Linked DNA regions of Homo sapiens: region 2 is linked to region 1. A link means that fine-mapping ties the variant in region 1 to the expression of a gene that starts in the linked region. Tissue or cell type: thyroid. Region 1 holds a variant in brackets; the other region holds the start of a gene. All regions are shown on one strand. Distances are from middle to middle.

What was found.
Region 2: it holds the start of C10orf90, and the variant in region 1 is fine-mapped to the expression of C10orf90 in thyroid (GTEx, PIP above 0.99).

What each region holds. Positions count from the first base shown.
Region 1 is chr10:126,696,226-126,711,615 of GRCh38, reverse strand. No RefSeq gene overlaps it. Among named protein-coding and RNA genes, the nearest start is that of C10orf90, 33 kb to the right of the region's middle. The variant C/T (reference allele first, on the strand shown) is at 6,918.
Region 2 is chr10:126,665,235-126,680,624 of GRCh38, reverse strand. C10orf90 (chromosome 10 open reading frame 90) reads left to right here and starts at 9,932. Exons shown (of 10, transcript NM_001350921.2): 1 at 9,932-10,384. The coding sequence starts at 10,145. RefSeq lists an enhancer at 3,217-3,757 and a silencer at 7,684-7,906.

The sequences.
Region 1 (15,390 bases):
TCTTATTTGTATTTTACTTGTCCCATCCCTGAGATCAGCCTAGGATTCTTTGTTCTTTTTAGTGAAGAATGGTATTTAGAAGCCAAAATCTAAACAGCAGATATGCTCGTTGCTACTGGTGTGTCACTGATTCTAGATCTTCTCAGTGGACAGAGCTAAGAAATGCATGCATGCATATACATAAACATACAAATACATATACTTCGAGCACATATGTATGCCAATATGTTTATTTTTATAGATATTCTGTGTGTGTATATATGTGTATTTGTGCATAGACACACATGCGTGCACACACACACACATACATGAATACATGCGTATATGCATCAGTGCATAATGACCACTCCAATTCCAATCTAGCACCATGGGGTACACCCTGATTTTGCCCCTTTCCCTGTCTGTGACCTTTTTTCCGATTGTTAGATGCCTGGCTCTGTGTAACCTACAGCATCTTGTTCATCTCCTAGCTCTTTGCTAAATTTCGCAGGCTTATTCTGTGTATGCTGAGTCCAGCTGTTGCTAAAGAACCAGAGGCGAGCTCCCACTTCCTCTCTCCTTGCATGTTCCCCACAACTTCCAATTGTCTTGGCAACCCCAAACTTCTTAGCCCTGCAGGGTTTGGACTTCACTTCCCATATTGAACTCTGGAAATTGCTCCTAGAAAATGTGCAGCTTACCTGGTATGTTTCTTGTCTCTCATGGGTTACTCTCCTGCATTGCCTCTTGTCTACTGTCTCAAAACAGTTGCCACATACATTTTGCTCAGTGTCGTGGCTAGCTGTTATCTTAGTCTGTAACAAAACTGCTATAACAAAATACTGTAAATGGCATGGCTTAAACAATATAATTTTATTTCTTGCAGCTCTGGAAGCTAGAAAGTCTAAGATCAAGATATTAGCAAGATAGGTTTTATTTTTCAGCCTCTTTTCTTGACTTGTAGGTGGTGACCTCTTGTTTGTGTATGTGTGTGGAGGGAAGCAAGCCCTGTGGTATCTGTTCTTCTAAGGGCACTTATCCTATCCATCAGGGCCCCACCCTCAGAAACTCATCTAATGCTAATCACCTCCCAAAGGTCTCATCTCCAAATACCATCACATTAGCGATTAAGGCTATGAGTTTTGAGGTTGGGACACAAACGTTTAGTCCATAACACCTATTTATAGCAAGGAGGTACATCTGACACCAGTTACTCTGTCATGGCCAGACAAGGTAGTCTCTGCTTAGTTTTTATTTTACTCCAAAACACCGTATTTAAATTGTAGTGTTGGCCGGGCACGGTGGCTCACACCTGTAATCCCAGCACTTTGGGAGGCCAAGGCAGGCGGATCACGAGGTCAGGAGATCGAGACCATCCTGGCTAACACGGTGAAACCCCGTCTCTACTAAAAATACAAAAAAAAAATAGCCGGGCGTGGTGGTGGGCGCCTGTAGTCCCAGCTACTCGGGAGGCTGAGGCGGGAGAATAGCGTGAACCCGGGAGGCGGAGCTTGCAGTGAGCCGAGATCACACCACTGTGCTCCAGCCTGGGCAACAGAGCGAGACTCCGTCTCAAAAAAAAAAAAACTTGTAGTGTCGTGTGCTTTGAGTTCAGTCACATCCACAGCCTGCTAAAAGTGCTGGTGGGAAAGATAGAACACAGCATGATTTCAGACTTCAAGGCAAGAGAAAAACCAATTTTGTATTCTAGAAAATAGAATAAACTCATTTCTTTTAGCATCTTATTGAGCCTTCAGGCATTGATATTTACACGTTTTATCAATTTGGGATATCACTTGGAGAAGAACTTCATTAGCAATCCCAAATCATCTGTGGCCTTCTCACATGATTTGTTTCTGTGTATCTTGGACACTGATATTTCTGTATTTGTATGTGTGTTTGCTGTAGTTAATTTTTTCTGATTTATAAAAATACTACATATCACTTTTTGCAAAATTTGCAAAATTATATGACAGAATAAAGAAGAAACTTGTATCATTGGTAATATCATTTAAAGATAACTACTGATGTCCCTTTGAATTTCCCAATGTGTTTAAAACAAGCATGGCTTGCTTTCAAAAAAGTCGATTATTTTAACATCTCAATATACACATGTATTGTTGAAGATGAGAGTGGAAAGGACCTTGAAAGAGATCTCAGTCAACAATTTTGTAGCTGGGTAAACTGAGGTTCAGCAAGTGCACCTGGTCAGGAATGCCTAGATCTTTGCATTATATCTGTATTTCACACATTGTGCCACTTCTGTAACACCTCTTCAATATTATCAGAGTCATAGATCACTAGTCCTTTTTCCTAATAAACGAGCATCTTACCACTAAACTTCAAACATTTGCCCTAGTGCTGCCCCCAGTGCTATTGCTATCAGTCACCTCACCTTATGCGTGATGTTACTTTGTAACAATAACAAGTACCATTGCCCAATATACAGAGCAAGGCAATACACCAAGACACTGGGTTGCAGCAGAGAAACAGGTTTATCTGTGAACCCCGAATATCTGAGACTGGTCTCCGTTAATTTGGAAAGTTTATTTTGCCAAGGTTGAGGACGCATACCTGTGACACAGCCTTAGAAGGGCCTGATGACATGTGCCCAAGGAGGTCAGAGCATAGTTTTGTTTTACACATTTTAGGGAGACGTGAGACATCAGTCATCATACGCAAGATGAACATTGGTTCTGTCTGGAAAGGCAGGATGACTGGAAGCAGGATGACTGGAAGTGGAGAGGGGGCTTCCAGGTCATAGGTAGGTAAGAGACAAATGTCTGCATTCTTTCGAGTTTCTGATTAGCCTCTCCAAAGGAGGCCATCAGATATACATTTATTTCAGTGAGAGAGGGGTGACTTTGAATAGAATGGGAGGCAGGTTTGCCCTAAGCAGTTCTCAGCTTGACTCTTCCCTTTAGCTGAGTGATTTTGGGGCCCCAAATGTATTTTTTTTCACAAATCATAGGACCACCAAACAAGGAGACAGGAGGAAACCTCAAATCCATCTTCCTGAGGAGGCATGTAAACCAGACAACTCCATCTTAAATAGGAGCTAGGTAAAATGAACTGAGGCCTACTGGGCTGCATTCCCAGATGGTTAAGGCATTCTAAGTCACTGGATGAGATAAGTGTTTGCACAAGATACAGGTCATAAAGACGTCGCTGATAAAACAGGTTGCAGCAAAGAAGCTGGCTAAAACCCACCAAAACCGAGATGGCAATGAGAGTGACCTCTGGTCATCCTCTGCTACCCTCCCCACCAGCGCCATGACGGTTTACAAATGCCATGGCAACATCAGGAAGTGACCCCATATCATCTAAAAAAGGAGACATGAATTATCCACCCCTGGTTTAACATATCATTAAGAAATAATCATAAAAATGGACAACCAGCAGCCCTCGGGGCTGCTCCATGGAGTAGCTATTCTTTTATTCCTTTACTTTCCTAATAAACTTGCTTTCACTTTACTCTGTGGACTCGCCCTGAATTCTTTATTGTGTGAGATCCAAGAACTCTCTCTTGGGGTCTGGATCGGGACCCCTTTCCTGTAATACCTGGATCTCTCCCCGAGAGCAGTGGGTCTCAAAGTGAGGTTTCCAGACCAGCAGCACAAGAGGCACCAGAGAACTTTTAGAAATGCAACTTATGGCCGGGCACGGTGGCTCACGCCTATGATCCTAGCACTTTAGGTGGGTGGATCACCGGAGGTCAGGAGTTTGAGACTAGCCTGGCCAACACGGTGAAACCCTGTCTCTACTAAAAATACAAAAATTAGCTGGGCATGGTGGTACGTGCCTATAGTCCCAACTACTCAGGAGGCTGAGGCAGAAGAATTGCTTGAATCCAGGAGGTGAAGTTGCAGTGAGCCAAGATTGCATCGCTGCACTCCAGCCTGGGTGACAGAGCGAGACTCCGTCTCAAAAAAAAAAAAAAAAGGAAAAAAAAAGAGAGAGAGAGAAATGCAACTTATTAGGCTCCACCCTCACCTACAGAGTGGAGACCCTGGGGTGGGCCAGCCGGCTGAGCTGTGACAAGCCAGCCAGGGATTCTGATGCAAGCTATTGAGAACCCGGTCTTTATCTTAATATAATTATTCAGGGGTGTGGCCTGAGCTTTGGCAGGTGCTTCTAAAGCTTTTCAGGTGATTCTAATGTGTAGCCCAGCCTGAGAATTATTGCTCTTGAGCCACTTGCTGCTTACAGGTCTTGCATCTCCAGCAAACTGGCCTCCTGCAGGCTGCTCTTCATCTGAATAATGGCTTTTTCTATTGTTTATGGCAGATTTCTCTTCATCTTTCTAATCTGTATTATAAAAGAGTAGAAATGTAATTTCCCCGGTTAGCTTATATTTTACATGAAAAATGGCTACTTTGAATCAGACAAAAGGGAAGATATCTTTCAAAGGGTAACGGCCCCTGTTTAGTCAAGTTGCAGCTTTCTTTTTTTCATTGTAAGGGGAGTGAATAATTCATATTCATTTCTCCTAAATTGGTTTTCTTCGGGGTATCTCCCCCCACGTGTATGGAAACAGTCTGGTGGGTGAAATAGAAGCAGTCAGCCGGGTCTCGAGACCCTCCAGATCACTTTTTTCACAGTATGATTGAGAATCGGGACATTCGCACAGCTTTACGGGATATCTGGAAATCAAAGAAGAAATTCTAGGAAGGCAGAGGCTTCCAGCAATGTCCTCACTATGTGTGAAGTGCAGCACCATTTTGCATCTGAAACATTTCATGACCTACTGGTTGGTGTAAGGCAGGCTTCGTCAGTGTCAGCACTATTGATGTGTAGGGCCGGATATTATTTGTGGTGGGGGCCATACAGTGCATTGTAAGGTATTAGCTGCATCCTGGCCTGTAGCCACCAGAGGCCCATTGTGCCTCCAAGTTGTGACAACCATATATCCCTCCAGACATTGTCAAATGGGGGGTGGGGAAAAGGGGTGGCAAAATTGTGTCCAGTTGTAAACCACTGGCCTCAGGTGACAGAGGTTGTGGTCGCACCAACTTGCTCTCACTGCCCCTGGATCAGTGGGTGTCTGGACTGGCTGTGGGCCTCCGTGCTCCTCCTCAGAGCGGTCCCTGTGTCAGCTGCTCCCACCCCACATAGAGAGGCAGCTGGCAGGTCCTCCTCTCTATGACCCCTTGCAGGTCCTGGGTGTGGAGTCAGGTGTCTTCAAGAACAGAGGCAGTGGGTCTGAGGGTAGGGTGGGGTGGAGCATGCCTCTGGAAAGATCCTGCCATAACCAAATACCACCCCAGCAGGTACAGTGGCCTGGCTGGCAAGCTTCTTTGCTTCTCTGGCCTCCTGCCTGCTGGCCCTGCTGGCTCTGCCCTCACAGCGGTCCCCAGGTTCTGGTTTCTAAACCCAATCTTGCTCCTACTCTGCATCACTGCCTGTTTGACCTTGTATCTGGTCACAGCAGCTCCCCACTTCTGGCATCAGGGCTGGCAGCTCCTGGGCACTCTGCCCTGCTAAACCACTGGAACCAGGTGACCTCTGACTGTGAAGGACAGCCAGGCCATCTCAACACACTGAGTGGACTTGGATTCTCAGGCTCCAGACACTGCCTCTTGAGACAGCACTCTGGCTTTGCTAGTTGGAAAGTGCACTGGCAGCCTGGGGTTTGTTCTTGATCCACGGATTTGTTCCTGTTTGTGTAGTACTAAAGTCATTGAAACTAGCTGAGTGTAACACAGTGATTTTTTAATGTCTCCTTATCACATTTTTACATGTGTTTATTGCTTAGTTCCTGAGGGATGTATTTTTTCCCCTTTCATATAAATACTTGTGTTGCCTCTTTTTGAAGGGAGTTTCCTTTTATTAGACTCAGCGGTTTAATGGAATCAACTCTTCAGTGCTCAAAACTATTTCAAAAAGCGTAAGCCTCTTTTGTTCCCATCCTTGCCCTCCAGATGATTCTGATTCTATTAGACCAAGAGCCGCCAGCCTCCACCTGTAAGTTCAGTACAGAGAACATGCTTTCAATAGATCGCACAGGTTATTTCATGGATGTCTATTAGAGGAGGATCACAGTCTCTTTTGGATATTTTACATCTAGAAGAAAAAGCATTTCCCAGTAGGAATTCATACCCATTATATGGTCCGGGGCTTCCCCACATCCTTCCTCCTTACAGAAGTGAGGTGGCATCCGGTACTGCTGAGGCTCTGCTTTGAAAACCCCTGGTGGGTTCACTCTGGAGGATAAACAAGAGCCCCCACTGTTCACATCCAAAATCTTTGGGGGAACCATAGCTCTATAGGATTAGATATCTGTGAAGGTGGAATTCTGTCAAGGGTTTCCCAAAAGGTGACCACACTGACCTGTTGGAGAAGCTGGCTGGCACCTCCTCCCTTACCCTCTGGAGAGAGCAGCTCTCGTGTCCTGCAGGAATAAAGTGAGCAAGGGGGAAGCGGGGTAGGTGGCCCCTCCGGATCTGGCTGTATGCTCTCTTCTCAGAAAGATTAGGACATTTGGATTAGAGCATTCCCAAGCTCTATTTGCTTTTGATAAGAAGATTTGGCTTATTTATTTATTTATTTATTTATTTATTTGAATGCAGGTGAGAACTTAAGGCAAAGGCAGGCAAATGAATAGTGTTGAGACCGTTTCCTGTGGCCCCAAGGGGGATAAAAACAAAGTCAGTACGAGGCTTTCCCTGCCTCCTTGTCTAGACTCGGGATGGCAACAGATTGAGTTCTTTCTGTGCCAGTTCTGGCTCACTGGCTGTGTCTGCCTGGGTAAGTGATTGAGGATTCTGAGGCTGCATCCAGAGCCAGCAGAACCTAAGTCTTGATTGGCTCAGAAGGGCTCCATGGGCCCTGAAAGAAAAGTGGTAGAGTGGGCGGGTGAGGCAAGCACAGAAATAACCCCAGGACACGATAAACTGAACGTGCTCAGAAGAAGACTGGCAGCATATCACATGCTTGGG[C/T]GAGAAATTTTTCCTTGGGTTTGGGGAATAAGGAGGGGCTTCATTTAGAACAAAACTTTATCTTTTACCTCCTATTTTTGTGTGAGTGGTTTGCGTTATGGTGTTAATGCATCTGTAATCTTTAGTAATTTTGAATTTCCCAAAGATACGATAACAGGCAGTTCTGTTTCTACCAGGCATCCATGTTTGAGAAGTCTAAAGGGAGAAGTTGCACAGTGAGGAAAGCACATGGCTTATTGAGCAGATCTGCGTCCAATGTGCCAGGTGGAAGAATGGCCAAGGGCTCCATTGGTTCACACCTGTGTGGTCTGCGTGGTGGTGTATTGGACCGATGACCCCATCGGCACACTTGCAGAGCCTAGTGCCTACCCCTGACCAATGACTGCCCTTGCTCAGATTTAGTTTGCTTCTCTGGGTTCTGGGTTCTGGACCTTTTAAATTCATCTGCTGCTGTATTGCTGGGCACATTTCAAAGCTTCCTGGATGAATAAAAGTGCATTAAATGCAGCATTGCATCTGGTCCAGGTGATCTGTTTTCTTAGTGATGTTCTCAAATCTGTGAAAGAATTCAAAATCACCTCCTAAATTCTTGGCAGTTATTAAACAGCAGTCTTTAAAATGAGCAGGAAGACATTGATACAGGATGAGAAAGTTCTTCTCTGAGTTATTCCTCCTTTTGTTCTTCCTCAGGCTGGAAGTACAGGATTGATTAACACAGCTCTGTGTGGGCTGAACCCTGAGCCACCTCCCCAGCTGTGAAGTGGGACTCATCCCAAGGGTCTTGCCAGTGACTGGCTGGGCTCATCACTCAGATGCCTAGATAGGACCAGCTTCCCAGTGGTCCCTGACTACCTGGCTGTTAGCTGTGATGATGGCTAAAAGCAGTTAATCAGATGGTCATAACATTATTGGCTTGTGAAATCCTTCCTTTCTCAGAGCTTCCAGGGTTTGTATCTTGTGTGTTTGGTTTGATTACACTTGGAATACCAACTGTATTTTAACCAGCTATTAAACACAAATTATTTCTAAATAATCCTCATAGCAAATGACTGTAAGATATATATAGCAAAGTTATAAGAATTGTTCTTTACAGTTTCCTAGCATGCATGTTACAGTGAGAGTCTCAGCTGATTCCTGTGGCTTGACGAAGACTCTCTCCTTGGCCAAACTTTGATTGGGCTCTCTGACCTCTCCTTCTGACCAGGCCTTGAGCTTAGCCCCTGTCCTGTCCTTTACCTGCCCAGCCCAGCCTTAGTAAGGCTCTCACTACCCTTGATATCTGATCAAGTTTCTCATCACCCAACTTTGAGGTCTAAGTCCTTGGCCTGCCTTTAACAAGAATCCTGCTAGGTGAGTTTAGCAAGAACCCCCTGATCCTTGATATTCTTCTGAGTAATTTTCCATCCACTGAACCCCATGCTTCCCCACCCTTTACCCTGCTTCTTGTCTGTCAAGCCCCTTTGTCCTTATATTTGAAGTTGAGCCCACTCTCTTCCCTATTGCATAGAGATGACTTCTGTTGCAGTGGTCTTGAATAAAGTCTTCCTTATCTTTTTGTCAAGTGTCAGAATAAGTTTCTATTTAACAGGCTACTCTCTAAGGTGAATAAGGCAAACATTAGTCCTATTTCACTGAAAAGAAACTGAGGCTTTCATTGTTCTGTTCCATACAACAGATGACATTGCTGAGACCTGATTTCTGGTTGGCGGAGTCACTTTTAGCTTTGCAGACTACACAATCTTCCCTTATTCCTTCAAGCCAGAAATCAGCATTTCCTTGCTTGAATTTACTGCAGGAAACTTGGCTAGAGATGTGCAGGGGAAAGGGGCCAATCACAACAAGGGTGGTGAGGGCAGAGCAGGGAAGGAGAAGTATACGTCTTTGACCTCTGGGCCCCCCAGTGACCAGGTTTCCCTGAGCTGCAGGTGAAGCCATGGCTCCTCAACCCATTTCTGCTTCTCGTCCTGGAAGTAATCCCTAGAATGGGATCCTTTACACCCAGACAGTGTCCACTTAGAATTAATAGAAAGGGTATCCCTAATTCCCTATGTGGCTTTGAGTATTTTGCTTGACTCTTTTATATTTTGGTTTTCTCTTGCATTCAATATAGGAGGCAGCCAGCTCTAAGACTAATTCCAATTATAAAATTAGTGAGTCCAATATTCAAGACCACTTATTTTGGAAAAGGGAGTAAAAGGTATAGGGAGGGCAGATAACCCAGTCACGAACAGAATTGAAATCAGGAGCCCAGCTCCCGGTGTCCTTGTTCTTTCCTCTCTACCCATCTGGATCAGCATCCTGTGGGCTAACCACAGATCTGACTCAGTACCACTGAGGAACAGCTGCATTTGGCCCTTCTAGAGCATGAGGTCAGGAATGAGGAGTCTAAACATCAGAAAGAAGGTTGGCTCCCATGCTTGTGCTCTGCATAGCATTATGCATGCATATCCCATAGGCTAAAATGCACTTACCAATGAACAAAGCTAAGATTAACAGGGTGCTAACCGGATTACAGGGGAGGATGGGAGGTGGAGCAAGGAAGAATGCACCTCTGGATTCCATGTTTAGCTGAATCTCTTCCTTGTGTTCTGTTTACAGACGCTTGGGGTACTGTCTTCAATTCAACAAGAGAATCAATCTTTGTTGCTGGCTTGCAACAGAGTCTAACAGGCTTCTTTTCTTATTGTCTGGACCTCTTGGGCACTCTCCTGGGTCTTCCATGGAAAACATGTAAATCTTACAGCTGCCATCATCACAATCATTGTCATATCACCTTATGACTGTGTGTGCCTTATGTGTGTAACCCAACAGAATGTGTGCCCCTTGAAAGAGGAACATTGACAAAGCTCTGTCTTTGGATCCCTGGTGATCAGCCCCCGGGGCAGTGCTTTGTGGAGAGTTGTTGAATGTGCTATTGAATTTCCTGAACAAAAGTCCTGATCCTGGGTGGGAAGAGCACAGTTGGAATGCCAGCTCTCCTGGTGATGAGTGTTGTGGCCACAGTGTAGAAAGAGGAGGGCTACATGAGTGCTATACCCCTACCAGCTGTGTGAGTGTGGTCTAGTAGCCTGACTTCTTTGAGACATAGCTTCTGTACCTGCCCCAGGACTCTCATGAGAATTGAATGAATGATTTTTTGCAATAGTTTTAATGGAACATCTCATGTGAACCGATGGGCTTTGATGGAGTGAGTTGCCCCAGTAGAGGTTTAGAGGGTGTGTTCTCCCAGGTCAGATGGACTTGAGTCCACGTCCTGGCTGTGCCTCTACCCAGGTGGGTGACCCTGAGCACATCACTCCCTTTTCTGTGCCTCACTTTATCCTTTTATAGCATAGGGGGGAGCCATAGCATCAACCTGTGGGGTCGTTGTGAAGATGAAATGTGCTGGTCCTCTACACTAAGCCCTCTCTCTACACTGTGCCTGGCCACTGGAACACCCAGTAGGTGTTAGTTAGAATGTTGTGCCTTCAAATTTATGTTCTGGGTACTTTTTTTGAAACTTCAGTCTGATTTTCCATGTCCCTGTCTTAGCAATGACAGAAGTAATTTTAAAACATTTTCCTAAAGTAGTTTTTGTTTTGTTTTGTTTTTTTAGCAACTTAAAATAGCAAACATTTATTATCTTATAGTTTCTTTGGGTCAAGAATCTGGGCACAGCTTAGTTGGTTTTTTTTTTTTTTTCTTTTGAGACGGAGTCTCACTCTGTCACCCAGGCTAGAGTCCAGTGGTGTGATCTCGGCTCACTGCAACCTCTGCCTCCCAGGTTCAAGCAATTCTCCTGTCTCTGCCTCCCGAGTAGCTGGAATTACAGGCACATGCCACCACATCGGGCTAATTTTTGTATTTTTAGTAGAGATGGGGTTTCACAATGTTGGCCAGGCTGGTCTCAAACTCCTGACCTCAGGTGATTCATCCACCTTGGTCTCCCAAAGTGCTGGGATTATAGGCATGAGCCACCATGCCTGGCCCTTAGTTGGGTTTTCTCTGGCTCAAATTATCTCTTAAAGTTTTAGTCAAGCTATCAGCAAAGGTTAGGGTTTTCATCCAAAGCCTTGGATGGGTGAGTGTCCTTTTCCACACTCATTCATGTGGCTGTTACTAGGGTCCAGTTTCTTGCTGGCTGTTGATCACAGGACTCCCTCAGTTCCTTGCCACATGGACCTCTCCAAAAGGTAGCTCACAATGTGGCATCTGGCTTCCCTCAAAGCAAGAAAGCAAGAAAAAATTCAAGATGGAAGTCTTTTTGTAACCTACTATTAGAAGTGACATCCCATTACTTATACTGTATTCCTTTTTCTTTTTATTTTCTTTTATTTTTGACTAGCTCTCTTATAACTTTATTTTATTTTTATTTTTTATTTTTTTGACTACCTCCCTTATAACTTTTTTATTTTTTTATTTTTTTCCATAGATTATTGAGGTACAGGTGGTAGGTTGTATTTGGTTACATGACTAAGTTCTTTTCTTTTTGTTGTTGTTGTTGTTGTTGAGACAGAGTTTCGCTCTTGTCACCCAGGCTGGAGAGCAATGGTGCAATCTCAGCTCACTGCAACCTCCCCAGGTTCAAGCGATTCTCCTGCCTCAGACTCCCAAGTAGCTGGGGTTACAGGTGTCTACCACCATACCCAGCTAATTTTTTGTATTTTTATAGAGATGGGGTTTCACCATGTTGGCCAGGCTGGTCTCGAGCTCCTGACCTCAGGTGATCCACCCGCCTTGGCCTCCCAAAGTGGTGGGATTACAGGCCTGAGCCACTGCGCCCAGCTAAGTTCTTTAGTGGTGATTTGTGAGATTTTGGTGCACCCATCACCCGAGCAGTATACCCTGCACCCTATTTGTAGTCTTTTTTCCCTCACCCCCTCCCACTCTTCCCCCCAAGTCCCCAAGTCCATTGTATCATTCTTATACCTTTGCATCCTCATAGCTTAGCTCCCACATATCAGTGAGAACATGTGGTGTTTGGTTTCCAATTCTTGAGTTACTTCACTAACATTAATAGTCTCCAGTCTCATCCAGGTTGCTGCAAATGCCGTTAATTCATTCCTTTTTATGGCTGAGTAGTATTCCGTTGTATATATATACAACAGTTCCTTTATCCACTCATTAATTGATGGACATTTGGGTTGGTTCTATGATTTTGCAATTGCGAACTGTGCTGCTATAAACATGCGTGTGCAAGTTCCTTTCTTGTATAATGACTTCTTTTCCTCAGGGTAGATACCCAGTGATGGGATTGCTGGATCAAATGGTAGTTCTACTTTTAATTCTCTAAGGAATCTCCACACTGTTTTCCATAGTGGCTGTACTAGTTTACATTCCACCAGCAGTGTAGAAGTGTTCCCTGATCACCGCATCCACACCAACATCTGCTGTTTTTTGATTTTTTTGATTATGGCCATCCTTGCAGGAGAAAGGTGGTATTGTATCGTGGTTTTGATTTGCATTTCCCTGATCACTAGTGATGTTGAGCATTTTTTCATATGTTTGTTGGCCATTTGTATATCTTCTTTTGAGAACTGTCTATTCCTAAAATCTTTTTTAATGAAGAGTAATGCATATTCATTACAGAAAAGAAATGAAGAGCAAGTTGTCTATAGTGCCACCCTACAAACAGACCATTGTTATTATTTTAGCATACTCCATTTAAACAGCTTTCTCTGTGTGTACAAGTTTATATTACATGTTTTCATTTAGACATTTCAGTTTTTAAAAAAATATTCTAATTAGCACCTTTGACAGTTTAAAAAATGTGTTTTTCATCATTTCACATTATTTCCTTCAGATCTTTCTTTATCAGGTTACTGGTGAATCCTTAGCTGTGGATGGTGGAGGCAGTTTTGTTCTGGGCCCTTTTGCATCCACGTTAATCTTCATGAGTTTTTCTACTCCTAATGTACTAATCAGCTTCAGTCCATGCTTCTTGATTTCAGAATACTTGCTTATTTTTTATATGCTAATTCCAGAGAGTTCTCAGTTAAGTGGTTCCAAATTCATTCTTGAATCTATAAAAGTTTTCTAACTCAGATCCATAGGCATTATAAATGTATTCCTATTTTTCTAGCTCTACATATTCCATTTTAATACTTTAGCTATTGTGCAACTGTTGGAAATTTAGGAAGTGTGGTTTCCTTTTTGATAACACTTTCTTCAAGATAATTTCCTGCAACTTTCCTGGGATGGGGAGAAATTGAATATACCGCTTTGGTTTTTGAAGAAAGAATATCTCTGTTGGACTGGAAGATGCCTGGAAGATTCTCCCTAATTACTCAAAAGTTTCTTTATCTCTGTTTTCCCCCTTTTCTTCAGTTTTCCATTTTCCATTTCATCCTACCTAAAGTATATGCGGTAACAAATTCTTTGTTCCTGGGATTTGCTGCATTTTGGTGCTCAGTGTTTTACAAGTACTGTGGAACATCTATAAGAGAAAATAGAGACATTTATTGAGCTCCTTCCTTGCATGATTCTCAGCACTTCCTCGAGGTGTTTAAAATGTAATCTTTACCCCAGACGTCTAAGGTAGACATTATCCTCCCATTTTATTAGTAATAAATTAAACCTCACTGGTGTATGCAGAGGAAGAGTCTGGATGGAGAACCCAGTTGGTTCTGATTCCTTGATGAGTTCTTGCATTTTTGTCAGATTGAATCTTTAAACTATCCTTGGATTCCTTGAGCCAATGGGTTCCTCTCTTTGTCCAGCCTGGTTTACGTGGGTTTCTGTCATTTGTAACCTGAGGAATCCTGACTAAGATGTACTTGTTTAATCTTCCATTAGGCTGTAAGCTTCTTGAGATTAGCTACTGGGTCCACACTTATTCTTTGATCCTCAGGAGAAGGAAGGGGAATATTTTTTATTTAGACAGGGTCTCACTCTGTCACCCTGACTGTTGTGCAGTGGTGCAATCATGGCTCACTGCAGCTTCAAACTCCTGGACTAAAGTGATCCTCTTTTTGTTAGTCCATTTTCATGCTGCAGATAAAGACATACCCAAGACTGAGCAATTTACAAAAGAAAGAGGTGTAATTGGACTTACAGTTCCACGTGGCTGCGGAAGCCTCACAATCATGGCAGAAAGTAAGGAGTAGCAAGTCACATGATACTTGGATGGCGGCAGCCAGAAAATGAGAGATAACTTGCAGGGGAACTCCTTTTTTTAAAACCATCAGATCTCGTGAGACTTATTCAGTATCATGAAAACAGCACGGGAGAGACTTGCCCTCATTATTCAATTTTCTCCCACCGGGTCCCTCCCACAACATGTGGGAATTCAAGATGAGATTTGGGTGGGGACACAGCCAAACCATATCACTCTTGCCTCGGCCTCCCGAGTAGCTGGGACCACAGATGTACACCACCACACCTGAAATTTAAAGATTTTTTTTTGTACAGATGGGGTCTTGCCATGTTGCTCAGGCTGGTCCTGAACTCCTGGGCTCAAACAATCCTCCTGCCTTGACCTCCCAAAGTGCTGGGATTATAGGTGTGACCCACCATGGCTGGCCTGAAGGGAAACATTTTTCTGAAACAAAAATGCGAATAGATTCATTGCAAATTAAACAGAATATTTGATGTGAGGATTACCTTGTAAATTTGGGCCATATGGTCCTTTCATATAAAGTTCCTTTGAACTTTAAAATTCTGTTAATTAGAACTGAGGCATGAGTGCACTAAGATTTGGAAATTCCCATCATGAGGACTTGGGCTTTTTCATAGAAGACAATTGGCAGTGTGTCACTAAAGGCTTCTCCAGAGGCCATTCATGAACAGCTGGTAAATTAGAAAGAAAGAAAAAAAGAAGGCAGAGTGAGTAAAGCTGACGGCCTGGGAGAAGTTTCTAGTGTCAAGAAAGATGAGTGGATAAGAGGCCACTGGATGTTTGTGCTTCACTGTCTAAAGCATCATCCAATGTATCACTGATGCACACAGTCATACTAGCCAGTGTGACTGCCTAAGTAATGCAGGATTTATAGTTAGAATAAAAGAGTATTTTTGGATTCTAACTATAGTAACTGCAGGTGAGCTTGGGTAAGGTGCTCTGGCATCTTCCTCTCCCCTTTCATTATTGCTGCCAAACTGCTTTTTTCTGCTCTCTCTGCTGCCCAGACTCAGATCACACCCATGCACATGGTTCTGTCTTGGTTGGCCCAAAACGGCAGGCTTCAGTCTATATTTCCTTCCTGACTGGTCTCTCAGGGCTAATTGACTGAGTCTCCCTGTCTTTGAGAGACAAAGCTATTTTGATTACCAAGCCACTTTGAGAGAATTTGATTGGCTAGGCTTGAATTGAACTTTTACCCCTGATCCAATTATCTCACAAGAAAGATCATGTGATTTAAGGGCCACTCCTATGGAGAGGCAAGCTGTCAGTTAGCTAGAACCTGCCTAAGAAAATATTGCCACAATTTAAACTTGGAGCTACCTTTGCAGGTAATTTATATATATATATATATATATATATTTTTTTTTTTTTTTT
Region 2 (15,390 bases), 31 kb after region 1:
TTGTATCCTGAGACTTTGCTGAAGTTGCTTATCAGCTTAAGGAGATTTTGGGCTGAGACAATGGGGTTTTCTAGATATACAATCATGTCATCTGCAAAGAGGGACAATTTGACTTCCTCTTTTCCTAATTGAATACCCTTTATTTCCTTCTCCTGCCTAATTGCCCTGGCCAGAACTTCCAACACTATGTTGAATAGGAGTGGTGAGAGACGGCATCCCTGTCTTGTGCCAGTTTTCAAAGGGAATGCTTCCAGTTTTTGCCCACTCAGTATGATATTGGCTGTGGGTTTGTCATAGATAGCTCTTATTATTTGAAATATGTCCCATCAATACCTAATTTATTGAGAATTTTTAGCATGAAGGGTTTTTGAATTTTGTCAAAGGCCGTTTCTGCATCTATTGAGATAATCATGTGGTTTTCGTCTTTGGCTCTGTTTATATGCTGGATTACATTTATTGATTTGCGTATATTGAACCAGCCTTGCATCCCAGGGATGAAGCCCATTTGATCATGGTGGATAAGCTTTTTGATGTGCTGCTGGATTCGTTTTGCCAGTATTTTATTGAGGATTTTTGCATCAATGTTCATCAAGGATATTGGTCTAAAATTCTCTTTTTTGGTTGTGTCTCTCCCTGGCTTTGGTATCAGAATGATGCTGGCCTCATAAAATGAGTTAGGGAGGATTCCCTCTTTTTCTATTGATTGGAATAGTTTCAGAAGGAATGGTACCAGTTCCTCCTGGTACCTCTGGTAGAATTCGGCTGTGAATCCATCTGGTCCTGGGACTCTTTTTGGTTGGTAAGCTATTGATTATTGCCACAATTTCAGATCCTGTTATTGGTCTATTCAGAGATTCAACTTCTTCCTGGTTTAGTCTTGGGAGGGTGTATGTGTCCAGGAATTTATCCATTTCTTCTAGATTTTCTAGTTTATTTGCGTAGAGGTGTTTGTAATATTCTCTGATGGTAGTTTGTATTTCTGTGGGATCGGTGATGATATCCCCTTTATCATTTTTTATTGCGTCTATTTGATTCTTCTCTCTTTTTTTCTTTATTAGTCTTGCTAGTAGTCTATCAATTTTGTTGATCCTTTCAAAAAACCAGCTTCTGGATTCATTAATTTTTTGAAGGGTTTTTTGTGTCTCTATTTCCTTCAGTTCTGCTCTGATTTTAGTTATTTCTTGCCTTCTGCTAGCTTTTGAATGTGTTTGCTCTTGCTTTTCTAGTTCTTTTAATTGTGATGTTAGGGTGTCAATTTTAGATCTTTCCTGCTTTCTCTTGTGGGCATTTAGTGCTATAAATTTCCCTCTACACACTGCTTTGAATGCATCCCAGAGATTCTGGTATGTTGTGTCTTTGTTCTCGTTGGTTTCAAAGAACATCTTTATTTCTGCCTTCATTTCGTTATGTACCCAGTAGTCATTCAGGAGCAGGTTGTTCAGTTTCCATGTAGTTGAGTGGTTTTGAGTGAGATTCTTAATCCTGAGTTCTAGTTTGATTGCACTGTGGTCTGAGAGATAGTTTGTTGTAATTTCTGTTCTTTTACATTTGCTGAGGAGAGCTTTACTTCCAAGTATGTGGTCAATTTTGGAATAGGTGTGGTGTGGTGCTGAAAAAAATGTATATTCTGTTGATTTGGGGTGGAGAGTTCTGTAGATGTCTATTAGGTCCACTTGGTGCAGAGCTGAGTTCAATTCCTGGGTATCCTTGTTGACTTTCTGTCTCGATCTGTCTAATGTTGACAGTGGGGTGTTAAAGTCTCCCATTATTAATGTGTGGGAGTCTAAGTCTCTTTGTAGGTCACTCAGGACTTGCTTTATGAATCTGGGTGCTCCTGTATTGGGTGCATATATATTTAGGATAGTTAGCTCTTCTTGTTGAATTGATCCCTTTACCATTATGTAATGGCCTTCTTTGTCTCTTTTGATCTTTGTTGGTTTAAAGTCTGTTTTATCAGAGACTAGGATTGCAACCCCTGCCTTTTTTTGTTTTCCATTGGCTTGGTAGATCTTCCTCCATCCTTTTATTTTGAGCCTATGTGTGTCTCTGCCCGTGAGATGGGTTTCCTGAATACAGCACACTGATGGGTCTTGACTCTTTATGCAGTTTGCCAGTCTGTGTCTTTTAATTGGAGCATTTAGTCCCTTTACATTTAAAGTTAATAGTGTTATGTGTGAATTTGATCCTGTCATTATGATGTTAGCTGGTTATTTTGCTCGTTAGTCAATGCAGTTTCTTCCTAGTCTCGATGGTCGTTACGTTTTGGCATGATTTTGCAGCGGCTGGTACCGGTTGTTCCTTTCCATGTTTAGCGCTTCCTTCAGGAGCTCTTTTAGGGCAGGCCTGGTGGTGACAAAATCTCTCAGCATTTGCTTGTCTGTAAAGTATTTTATTTCTCCTTCACTTATGAAGCTTAGTTTGGCTGGATATGAAACTCTGGGTTGAAAATTCTTTTCTTTAAGAATGTTGAATATTGGCCCCCACTCTCTTCTGGCTTGTAGGGTTTCTGCCCAGAGATCCGCTATTAGTCTGATGGGCTTCCCTTTGAGGGTAACCCGACCTTTCTCTCTGGCTGCCCTTAACATTTTTTCCTTCATTTCAACTTTGGTGAATCTGACAATTATGTGTCTTGGAGTTGCTCTTCTCGAGGAGTATCTTTGTGGCGTTCTCTGTATTTCCTGAATCTGAACGTTGGCCTGCCTTGCTAGATTGGGGAAATTCTCCTGGATAATATCCTGCAGAGTGTTTTCCAACTTGGTTCTATTCTCTCCATCACTTTCAGGTACACCAATCAGATGTAGATTTGGTCTTTTCACATTGTCCCATATTTCTTGGAGGCTTTGCTCGTTTCTTTTTATTCTTTTTTCTCTAAACTTTCCTTCTCGCTTCATTTCATTCATTTCATCTTCCATTGCTGATACCCTTTCTTCCAGTTGATCGCATTGGCTCCTGAGGCTTCTGCAATCTTCACATAATTCTCGAGCCTTGGTTTTCAGCTCCATCAGCTCCTTTAAGCACTTCTCTGTATTGGTTATTCTAGTTATACATTCTTCTAAATTTTTTTCAAAGTTTTCAACTTCTTTGCCTTTGGTTTGAATGTCCTCCCGTAGCTCAGAGTAATTTGATCGTCTGAAGCCTTCTTCTCTCAGCTCGTCAAAGTCATTCTCCATCCAGCTTTGTTCCGTTGCTGGTGAGGAGCTGCATTCCTTTGGAGGAGGAGAGGCGCTCTGATTTTTAGAGTTTCCAGTTTTTCTGTTCTGTTTTTTCCCCATCTTTGTGGTTTTATCTACTTTTGGTCTTTGATGATGGTGATGTACAGATGGTTTTTTGGTGTGGATGTCCTTTCTGTTTGTTAGTTTTCCTTCTAACAGACAGGACCCTCAGCTGTTGGAGTACCCTGCAGTGTGAGGTGTCAGTGTGCCCCTGCTGGGGGGTGCCTCCCAGTTAGGCTGCTCGGGGGTCAGGGGTCAGGGACCCACGTGAGGAGGCAGTCTGCCCGTTCTCAGATCTCCAGCTGCGTACTGGGAGAACCACTGCTCTCTTCAAAGCTGTCAGACCGGGACATTTAAGTCTGCAGAGGTTACTGCTGTCTTCTTGTTTGTCTGTGCCCTGCCCCCAGAGGTGGAGCCTACAGAGGCAGGCAGGCCTCCTTGAGCTGTGGTGGGCTCCACCCAGTTCGAACTTCCTCGCTGCTTTGTTTACCTAAGCAAGCCTAGGCAATGGTGGGCGCCCCTGCCTTGCAGTTTGATCTCAGACTGCTGTGCTAGCAATCAGCGAGACTCCGTGGGGTAGGACCCTCTGAGCCAGGTGCGGGATATAATCTCGTGGTGCTCCGTTTTTTAAGCCCGTTGGAAAAGCGCAGTATTCGGGTGGGAGTGACCTGATTCTCCAGGTGCTGTCCGTCACCCCTTTCTTTGATTAGGAAAGGGAACTCCCTGACCCCTTGCGCTTCCTGAGTGAGGCAATGCCTCGCCCTGCTTCAGCTCGGGCATGGTGCGCGCACCCACTTACCTGCACCCACTGTCTGGCACTCCCTAGTGAGATGAACCCGGTACCTCAGATGGAAATGCAGAAATCACCCGTCTTCTGCGTCGCTCAGGCTGGGAGCTGTAGACCGGAGCTGTTCCTATTCGGCCATCTTGGCTCCTCCCCCTCGTAGCTGAAAAATTTAACAAGGGAATGGAATTCATCAAGCAAACTTGCATCCTCTTCCTAATTTGATTAAAAGGTCAAAGATTCCTTAGTTGGCCATATTATTCTCAGTTCTTTTGTTTTATTCTAGCAACCCGGCGGGTGGGGACTAACAAGAGGAAAAATACATTGCATCGGTCCTATGTTACACAGCCCTGTAAATTTCACACATCTGTTTTAGAAGGATGATTGCATGGATGCGCTTGCAGCAAGCATTGTGCCTTGGAGAAAGGAGAAAAACTTCAGCACCCACCTGATGAGTAAAGCGCCCATAAATAAAAATGTCATTTCTCCCGTAAGGGAAACTAAATTATGAATTCAGAAATTCATAGTCATCTGTTTTTATTGTTGCCTAATGCTTTTTAGATCTGCACAGGCCCTTCAGAAAATCAACTCCGAAATTCTGCATAATTAGGATATCTTTCATAGTCCTAAATGCTAATCCCATTGGAGAACAGATTAAGAATTCACAGGCATGATTTTTGGCATCAGGTACCTGCAGTTTCTTTTCTTTTTGAATAATTCATTATTTAAATACTTCAGTGCATATTGTATACAGCCCTGCATATTGTCTCAGGGGCAAGGGAGAGGTAAGAGATTAATATCCCATATAGTTCAACACTAAACACATTTGAGGCTCATTTATGTTGATTTGATATCATTGGATTGCAATTGCTAACAATGTTAACAGTTTTAGTCACCCCAGGGACCAATTTAGGGAAATTAAATAGGATATTCTGCAGGACATTAATAAGGTCAGAGATCTAACTTTTATAGTAGTTGACTGAGTTATTTCCTTTAAGAAAAAAACCACAAAAGATTCAGGAAATCATTTTCCATAAACAGTGCTGATTATTTGCAGTAAATATGGCTTCAGTTAGTGCTTTTCCATTCTTGGCTGTGAATGCTTTATGACAAAATGTATGAACAGTATGTAGAAAGTGATGTCCTATGGCTGACTTTTGTCCATGCAATGCTAACTGTGGGGGGTTCAGCAGTAAAGCAGCCATCAGTCAAGACTTGATGCCATACCCCTTCTCCCATGAAGGTTTCTTAGTGTCCTCACCACGCAGATGCTCTCATAGGAAACATTCATTGTGCTTTGAGTAACTGCTTGTCAAGGCATCCGTCCCATTGCTGAACAGTGAACTCCCTTTCATCTCTGTATCATCAGTGCCTTGCACAGTAACTGGCTCAGAAGCACTTCACCTCTGCTTCTTTGATAAATGAATGAATTTTCAAAGATTAACATAAACTCTGTTGGTTGCAAATAACAGGACCTAAGTCAAACAGCTTAAGCCTAAAGGGGAGAGTATTGTAAAGATACTATAGTCACATTGATTCCACATGCAGAATGTGGGCCGGGTAGAACCCAGGGTTCAAGAACTATCCACATGCTCCCATTTCTGGCTTCTGCCTCTCTCTGTGACAGCTCCTTGCCAGAAGTGCTTGCAGTGTTCCAGCCCACAGCCTCAGCTACCCACTCTTGCTCAGTTCCAGGATCAAGATTCTCCAGAACAGACTTTTTCTGATTGGCCTTATGTGAGCCAGGTGTTTCTCCAAGAGTCTTAGTCAGCTCAGGCTGCCACGACAAAATACCATAGACTGGGAGGCTTAAAAAGCAGACATGTATTCTTTCGCAGTTTTTCGAGCTGGAAATCTGAGATCAGGGTGTCAGCTGGACTAGGTCCCCATGAGAGCTCTCCTTCTGGCTTGCAATCAGCCACCCTCTCACTGTGTCCCCATATGTCCTCTCCTCTATGCTCATGAGGAGGGGGTGGGGGAGAGAAAGAGATCTCTGTTCCTCTTCTCATGAGGCCACTAGTCTTATCATGAGGGTCTACCCTCATGACCTAATTTAACCCTCATTACTTTCCAAAGGCCCCATGATCAAGCACCATCACATTAGGAGTTAGGGCTTCTTCATATGAATTGGAGGATACCCAAATATTTAGATCAAAACAAAAGGCTCTGATTGGCCCTATTTGGGCCAGGTGCCCACCCCTGGGCCAGTCAATGGTCAGTCAGTGAGGTCAGAGGCATGGCCAGCTTCTATGGGCACCATATGGGAGGCTTCGGGATGGATGTGGAGGAAGAGTTCCCAGAAGAGCGGGACTCTTGGCAAACCAAAAAGCGTTCAGTGTCCTTGGCAATATGTGTGAATGTGGTGGCATGGTGGTGCCTAATACCACCATTCTTTTGTGACTGTAAATGTGACTGACTTTCTGTCCTTTGGATGAGAACTAGCTTAGTTTGTGCTTGTGTCTGGCACTTCTTCCTTCAGTTGTTTTTGCTAGCATCTAGCATTAAAAATCTATACTTGTATAGTTTTAAAAATATATACTTTATAAAACAGTTTCACACACAACAACCACCTAACGCAATGTTCACAGCTGTCTGCTCCGGGGATGCTAACTCTATTTCCCATTTGAGGAGATCAAGGCTGGCCACCTGCCCCAGTTCTGGGCAGCATTACATGGCAGAGGAAGTCTTGGAGATAGGGTCTTAGGATGGCCAGTTGAGTTCCAGCTTCTCCTTAACAATCTTCCTTCTTTGGTATTAAAATGATGTGTCTGGCAATTTAGAGTCTTTGCCCTTTGGGAGTGATGACAGCTGGTGTCTGTCAGGCAGGTGCCCGGTGCCAGGCTCTGTCCCAAGCCCTTTACTAGTGCCAGCTGCTTCAGTCTCCACAGCAGCCCATCAAAGAAGGCACTATTGTTATCCTCTTAAATGGATGGGGAAACTGAAGCAAGGGTAGTGTGTAGTTCGCCCAAGGCTGCAAGGCAAGCACTGTGAACATCAGCAGGAACCACGTTTTCTTACTTGGAGGCTGTGCTTCAAGAGGGCACAGTGGCTGGACTGTGGAGGTTGTGGCCCTGCTGGAGGGTGAGGAGCAACAGTTCTGAGGGCAGATGGAAGGACATCAGCTCATTCTTCTGCACCCAGCCCCACCTCAGTGACCCAGACAGGAAGGCCTTTCCCAGGGAGGGTGGAACTGCTCTCTGCTGAGCTGTGTCTGCACATGGTCAAAATTGACACACTCTAGAACCCAGGGGTGTCAGAGAAGCTAGGGGGCTTGTGGTTAAAGGGAACTTAAGCCAGAAGGGAGGAGTCTTGTCCACAATCACCTGCTAGTTTGTCTTAGGGCCTAGGTGCAAACCCATCTCCAATTGTCCATCCAGTGCTCTTTCCAGCCCTTGGACCTCTCAGTCAAGGTTCTCTCCCTCTGGGCCTCAATTTTCTCCTCCATATAATGAGGAATTCAATCTGACAATCCCAAGTCTTCTGTCCATCCCTATTGACCAAGAATCCCAGAGACCTGCCTAAGGCCACATTACTGCTTCCTCTTGTTGGCCATACTGGCCAGTTAAGATCCAGCCACCAGCTGTGGTCAAGGGAGAGAGAAAACTCACCCATAGCCTTAATGATCTTTGGAATCTCCATAATCACCACAGGCTGGCTGTGCTTGTGACAAGTGCTCACACTAGCAGTCAGCCAACCATCAGCAAACCTCTCCATGCTGGTCTCGGAGTAGCTGATGACCAGTCCTGGTCTCGGGGTAGCTGATGACCAGTCCTGGTCTCGGGGTAGCTGATGACCAGTCCTGGTCTCGGGGTAGCTGATGACCAGTCCTGTTCTCGGGGTAGCTGATGACCAGTCCTGGTCTCGGGGTAGCTGATGACCAGTCCTGGTCTCGGGGTAGCTGATGACCAGTCCTGGTCTCGGGGTAGCTGATGACCAGTCCTGGTCTCGGGGTAGCTGATGACCAGTCCTGGTCTCGGGGTAGCTGATGACCAGTCCTGGTCTCGGGGTAGCTGATGACCAGTCCTGGTCTCGGGGTAGCTGATGACCAGTCCTGGTCTCGGGGTAGCTGATGACCAGTCCTGGTCTCGGGGTAGCTGATGACCAGTCCTGGTCTCGGGGTAGCTGATGACCAGTCCTGGTCTCGGGGTAGCTGATGACCAGTCCTGGTCTCGGGGTAGCTGATGACCAGTCCTGCTGGCCTCAGCATTGTCCAAGGTCCTTTAATGTGTGTAGTGGTGGAAGAAAAGACTTTATTATTTGTTATCTGCCTTGCGGGGTCTCCTGGACAGGAGCAGATAGACACAAATGGGAGCTGGTTTAAATGGCGTTTTTGGGGACACAGGGAATGACCTTCCCTGTGCCCAAACATGAAGCAGATCCCCTCTTTCCTTGGTGTCCCTGTTCAATTTTCATGTTTTTATTGCTCAAATGTCTCCCATGGCTTTCTTTATCACATTGCTTCCAAATCCAAGATGGCGCTCCATGGTGTAGCTCCCTGGGAGTTTCCAGCATGACTGTCAGGTTTGAGTCAGCCATGGATGCCATCAGTTGGGTGTTGACACTCTCTTTGACATCCTTGGGAGAGCCCCAGGCAGACCCGGGCTGTGTTCTGTTTAAGGAACCATGAACTCCACTTCACTGTGTGATCTTGAGCCAGCATTTAGTCTCTGTAGGTCTTCTACTTTAACACTCAAATGAGAATGTTGGCCTAAATGATCTCTAAAGTCTTTTCTGTCTCCTCCTTCATTGTAGTTCCCATCTTCAATACTTCCATTGCTCCGAAGGTGGAAGTTCAGCATTTTAGCCCCCAAGTCCTAGCCCTGCTGAGTGTGACATGCAAAGCTTCGACCCACAGCAGGAAGTCTCACAGTTCTGGGCTAGGACTGCAGCTCTGTTTTCAGGAAAGTTATCTGGAGGCTCTTCTTCCTTTAGCCTCTCCCATGGCTTTCAATGTGGGGCAGGTGAGTTAATTATTCAAGGGGGTGTCTCTGCCAAGAGAAAGTCACCTGTGGAGAAGAGTTCTGTGTCTGGACTTGGAGCACAGCCACGATGCTGTCATCTGCTTCCTCTTGGCACACACCCTTGATCCAAGGCTTGCCATTTTCACTTCTAAATTACTAGGTTAATAGAAATGGCATCAAAACATTAAATAAAGTGAGGCATATACCATGGATCTGCAATTCTAATTGACTTGAAATTTAGAATCTGATAATTATTAGCATTGTGTTAATCTCCGTTATCATATGTGTAGCGAACACTGTGCAAAATAATTTGGGTAGAGAACGCGCAACTGTACTTTCAAAATGATGCCTAACGTGACTCTATTCTGTGTTGTTGTTTCACTGTTTTGCTCACCAGATCCTAACAATAACCCTGTGAGTGGCAGATGGGGTATTTTCCTTCCAGTCTTCCTCCTGGTAAACTGAGACTCAGGGTGGTGAGGGAACTTCCCATGGTTGACCCAGGACCAGAGCCCCCTTCTAGGCGAGTGGACTCCACCCCCAGCCCCCACGTGATGCGCTGTTTTTCCGATGCCCTCTTGCAGCTGTTGCTGCTTCTGCGCTGGGAGTTCTCTTTTTCACTTGAATGTTTTCTTCTCCAGGGCTGAGGACGCTCTTTGTATTGGTAGGCAGCCTGCACTTGTTCCTTTCAGTCCTGGCAAGTAAAAGCAGGAATTCTAAAAAGCAACGATTATTCCTCCTAGTTCCTTTGTACAGAGCCCTGTAAATAATTTATTTGGATTTGAGGGGGTAGAGACTGACAAACATATTGAATCTCTCAGTAACTGGGTGAATTCTGTGTTCAAAACTTCAATGCAGTGGAAAGAGAAATACTTCTTTGAAATCAGAGAAGACTTTGAGTGACCCGAGAGCTCAGGCGTGAGGCTGGAAACAGACCACAACAAGAAGTTTTTTTTTTTTTTTTTTTTTTTTTGGCACGTAAAGGTCACCCCTGAGGTTCCCACATCCACATCCTTCACAAATGTAGCTGGGATATTGAGACAACTAGCTCTGGAGTTGGAAAACACTGGGACAGGTCCGAGCTGGGGCACTGCCCAAGTCCCTCCTGTTGCACTCAATACCTGGGTTAAACAAAGAAAATTGTGTTTGCCAGTCTCACTAGCTAAAGTCACAAGATACTGAGTCTCATGCAGCACTCTGGAATTCCTACAAAAACTCATCCGCAGGGGTATGCTGCCCGCTACACAGAAACGGCCGTGCATCGGACTTTCCAGATAAAAACATTTAGTACAGAGTTGAAAAACCATGTGATGGTCATGGATTTTGTGAAGAGTAACTGGTTTCCCTCCCAGAGAAGAGCCAAAGTTTGTATCATCCATATGTGTCAAGGCTTGAAGACGGCTGAGCAGACAGCCAGCAGATATGAGGTATGGCTGAGCCTGGGTGGGTGAGTGGGTACACGCTTGACTCAGAGAGAGATGGACGTGTTGCTCATCAGACAGTTCAGGTGTTTTATCTGGTCTAATAAATTAATCATTTGTGTTTGTAGACTTCCCTAAGGGATTTGGAAAAGCCTTCTTCATTTCTGAATTTATTTTAGTTTTTGAAATATGGGGGAGGGGGAAAGTATATCGGATGAAGTTAATTTACGATGACACATGTCTGCATTTACAAACTTTATTGGTGCTCCAAAGACTACTGAGTTGGGTAATTTGTATCCATGTTTAGAAACTACAGCATGTTTCTGTGAGTTAAATATTCTTAGCTCTGTATGTTTGCAATCACCTGTCTTTAAAAGCAAATTCCTACTTGTTTCCTGTTGCGTTTTGTAGGAGAATATGTATGACGTGCCTTCATCGAGTTAAAATAGAATGATTCAAGTTAGGCCAGTAAGAATGATCTTTTATTTTTGAGAGCAAGCTCTAATTTTCAAGCAGAGACAACTTTGTAAAAAAAAAAAAAAAGACAGAGAGTGAGAGAACTTTGGAGATTTAAAATGTCAAAGTGAGATAAACACATTACTCTGAAACATATTTGTATTCTGCAACTAGTATCAGCCACAAGCAGTTATCTTTTCAGAAAGTAAACACGCATGAAATCTGATCGGCTGTTTATTGTACATGGAATAAATTATGAACGACATTGTAATTGACTCCCATATAGCTCATTTACCCATCTCTTTTGATAGATGTAACATGCAAATTGCTAATGCCTTATGAAAAGGTAACCTTTCTGAATATTGATGCTGTTATTAGGAAAGCCTTCCCATGAATACTGGCAAATACGCCAGGTCTTTGTTCCCCAGGCTGGGCAGAAGGAAGCCAGCACAGTGTGGAAGGAACAGGTTTTTCAAGGTTCAAGGCTGGCTTCTTCCAGTTCCAGCCCTGGGAGTGTGAATTTCCATGTTCACAACAGAGATGTAAAGGCCACAGAAATAATGGTGCTAATTAAATTCAGTAATAGTTGTTCATTACTTCATTGCCCAATCAACTGGAGCAAAAGGTGTGCAATTAGAATATAATTGAAAGAAATCAGAGATGTCATTATTCACAAGTAATTAATCAGATGGGGACAGAATTTTATCATTGCATAATTTTCACTGAGGTTATTTTCCAGTCCTCCAGAGAGAGAAAAACTTGTTGAATTACATTATTATGCATTGTTCATAGCTTCATTTTAAACCCTATGTAGCAAATGGTAGATCTGGCATTCTCGTTTTCTTCGTATATAAAACTTCACTGATTCCTATAGCCACACTGATTAAAACAATATGAAAAAAGTACACCTTTTTAGGAGGTTACAAAAAACTTCAAATATATGACAGTCACAGCTACATTTTTTTCAGGGCCCAATACGCTGCTACTATTGACAGCCAACAACCGAGCCACTAATGTTAAAATGAATGCCAGATCCAAGCCCCCACCCACAATCAGTCTGATGGGCTGGATGGGCCTCACTGTGTCCATGACTCCCCAAGTTGTCCAGGAAGGGCCTGCCTCCTCAGCTCTAGGGCGGGCCAAGTTTGAAAACCATCAGATGGGATTTGCACCCCCTGTCCCTCTGAACTTCAAGGTCTGCTCTTGACTTTTGGTAGCAAACATTTCCGATTTTAAAATATTCCTCATCCATTAAACTATTCTTCATGTTATTCCTACCATGACATCTCAGCATTATTTAGATTAGGAAATTTAGGAAGAAGGAAACTTCCTTGCTCAATTTCCCAAGCTGAACTGCTGAGAGACCCCAATTAGCACTTCTGGGTTCTGCCTTTGGACTTGGCCCAGTGACTCCTTCTCTTCTATCAGCTCCAAGGCCATTGGTTAACCTGCCCTGGGCTTTGACCACAAAGTACTCAATGGGCTGACAAATGAGCAGGGTCTCTGGGATGAACTCTCAATGCACAAAGGTGCTAGATTAAAGAAACTGGCTGGTTATCTGGCAAAAGTGAGTTTTGGAGATTTTATTTCTGTAAAAACCTTATGGATTTCAAGTTCTTCCCATGAGGTCCTGCAAATCTGCTTGATTTTAGTGTAAAACCTACAGACTCAAATTTTTCCAAAACCATGGTCTTAGTCCTGAGCTGTCTTAATGGTTGGAGAAGCCACCTCTCACCAGCTGAACTGCAGCCCAGGGATGATCCAGCCACACGCATACCTTTACATAGACTTCCTTCTGATAGGAACAAGGAGCAGAGCCTGCTGCACTGAAAGTTACCAGGATTGGGAGCAGGTGGTGGTGAGGGGTGCTGAAGGTCCCTGGGTTCATATTTTCAAAGACTTGATGTCTGCACACTCTAAAAATGCCCCAAACTCTGAGAAATACAGTTTGTTAAGGGCATGTCTCCCCCTGCGTATGTTTTTGATGAATTTCAGACATCAATGTAGCCATAACTGGAGGATGGGATGAGCCTATATTGGAGCTCTGCCTTCTGTCCGCATGGCAAGCAGGGACACTTTCTGAGACTCTCTATGCAGCAGAGCTTGCGTGGTTTTGCCAGCTTGGGAAGGGAAACCTCATAGAATTCAGTGATGTGCTCATATCTCCTATGGTGTGAATGTAAGTGAGCATCTCCTGATTGATTGTGGAGACCTTTCTGATGGTAGGTGCAGGCTGAGATGCATCAGCTAAGGCTCACCCATCTGTCCTCTGACAGGCGACAGTTTCTAATGCCTTTAATCACTAAATGAGCCAAAGAAAGATTTTGTATTTGGAAATCACTATTTGGCCATGCCTCCTGATATTTTTCAAAATCTCCATCATCATTTCCATCTCCTTTTTCTATTCATTCTTTTAAAAAATTGGGTTTAGTCAGCTGGGTGTGGTGGCTCACGCCTGTAATCCCAGCACTTTGGGAGGCTGAGGTGGGTGGATCACGAGGTCAGGAGATCAAGACCATCCTGGCTAACACAGTGAAACCCTGTGTCTACTAAAAATACAAAAAATTAGCTGGGTGTGGTGGCAGGTGCCTGTAGTCCCAGCTACTCGGGAGGCTGAGGCAGGAGAATGGCATGAATCTGGGAGGCAGAGCTTGCAATGAGCCGAGATTGTGCCACTGCACTCCAGCCTGGGCGACAGAGCAACACTCTGTTTCCAAAGCAAAACAAAACAAAACAAACAAAAAAAAATTGGGTTTAGCCAGTAGTGCTGAATTCTGGCTGAGTAGAATCATAGTGAACTTTTTTTTTTTTGAGACAGGGTCTCACTCTGTCGCCCAGGCTGGAGTGCAGTGGCACGATCTTGGCTCACTGCAACCTCCGCCTCCCGGGTTCAAATGATTCTCCTGCCTCAGCCTCCTGAGTAGCTGGGATTACAAGCACCCGCCACCATGCCCGGCTAATTTTTTTTGTACTTTTAGTAGAGATGGGGTTTTACCATATTGGCCAGGCTGGTCTCGAACTCCTGACCTCATGATCCGCCCGCCTTGATCTCCCAAAGTGCTGGGATTACAGGTGTGAGCCACCGTGCCTGGCCTCATAGTGAACTTTTTAAAGAACTGCATATGCCTCTGGTGCAGCCATGGCCATTGTGACTCAGTGGGCCCAGAGCAGCGTGAAGGCATTGGCAATGACAAACAAGGAAGAACACTTACCAGGTGACTCCTTTCATCTCCCACACCCCTCCTCGTGCTCATGCTTTCCTCTACCTTCTTGAGCTGCTTTAAGGTCCTTGTCTCCTCATTTTATCAGCATCTGTTATTTCTGCATCATTTCTAGTGATTGATTTTCCTCCTGATTATGGGTCATGCTTCTTTGCACACTAGGTAATTTTAAAATTGAATTTTGGATATTGTGAATCTTACATTGTTTGGTGTTTGATTTTGTTAAGTTATTTGAAAACAGCTTGACCCTTTTGAGGCTTATTTTTTCGATTTGTTTGGGCTTGTTGAAATACCCTGGGGATATTTGGTAATGTCTGCAGACAGTTTGGTTGTGACAACCTTGGGGAAAATGCTACTGGTGGCTAATGGGTAGAGGCCAGAGATGCAGCTAATATTCTACAATGCACAGGGCAGTGCCACCTTCAACCCCGCAACAAAGAACTACCTAGCTGAAAATGTCCATGGTGTTGAGGCCTAGAAACCCTGATGTGGGCTAATTTAGTCCCAGTGTTACAACATGACCCTTCTGAGGACTCTACCTGATGTCTCATGTGTGACAAGGTGTTTGTACCTGGGCTGGCGGGAACCTAAATTGCTTCCAAATAGCTCCTGAATGATGTGACCTACCACTTTCTGGAAGTTCTTTTCTTGGTTTCAGGTATTTTTCTCTTGGGCAGGTGCAGATCAGTATTCAGGCAAAGACCTGGGAAGTTCCCTGCAGGCTGCTGGAATTCTCCTTTGCAGTTCTCCTCTTCCTAAATTCCAGCTACATTGGCCTCTCTAATTTCCGTCTCTACCTCCTCCACTCAGCAAAGACCCCAGGCTCAGCTGAGTTTCCCCTCCTAAGCTGCAGCCTGGACACTGCCTCCAGGTGGGGACAATTGTAGGACTCACCTCTCTTGTTTTCCTCCTCTCAGGGGTCATAGTGCTGCATTGCTTGTTGTTCAATATCTGGAAATCATTGTTTCCTAGCGGTTGTCTGGTTACTCTATCATGGCTGGAAGAAGAAGTCTCCCAGAGTGGTTTCAATATCCCACCATAGTTTGGAAACTTAGCTCTGGGCTTTGATGAATGTTTTCCAGTGGTTGGAGTACACCGTTCAGTCTTGTAAAATAAAAGCACTCAAGTTAAGTACTTGGGCTTCAAGAGAACTTGATTCAGGAAATAAAGAGGTCACTGAGACCAAACAGGAGGTAAAGCGAACATTTCCTTTCTTCTCACAGTTATCAAAAGGTGCAAAACAATTTTCCCTATTTCCAGACCAAGTTGAAGAGCTTAGCCAGATCAAAGCTTTTGGAGTCTCACCTTTCCCCCTGAAGTCCCGGCCTCCAAGCA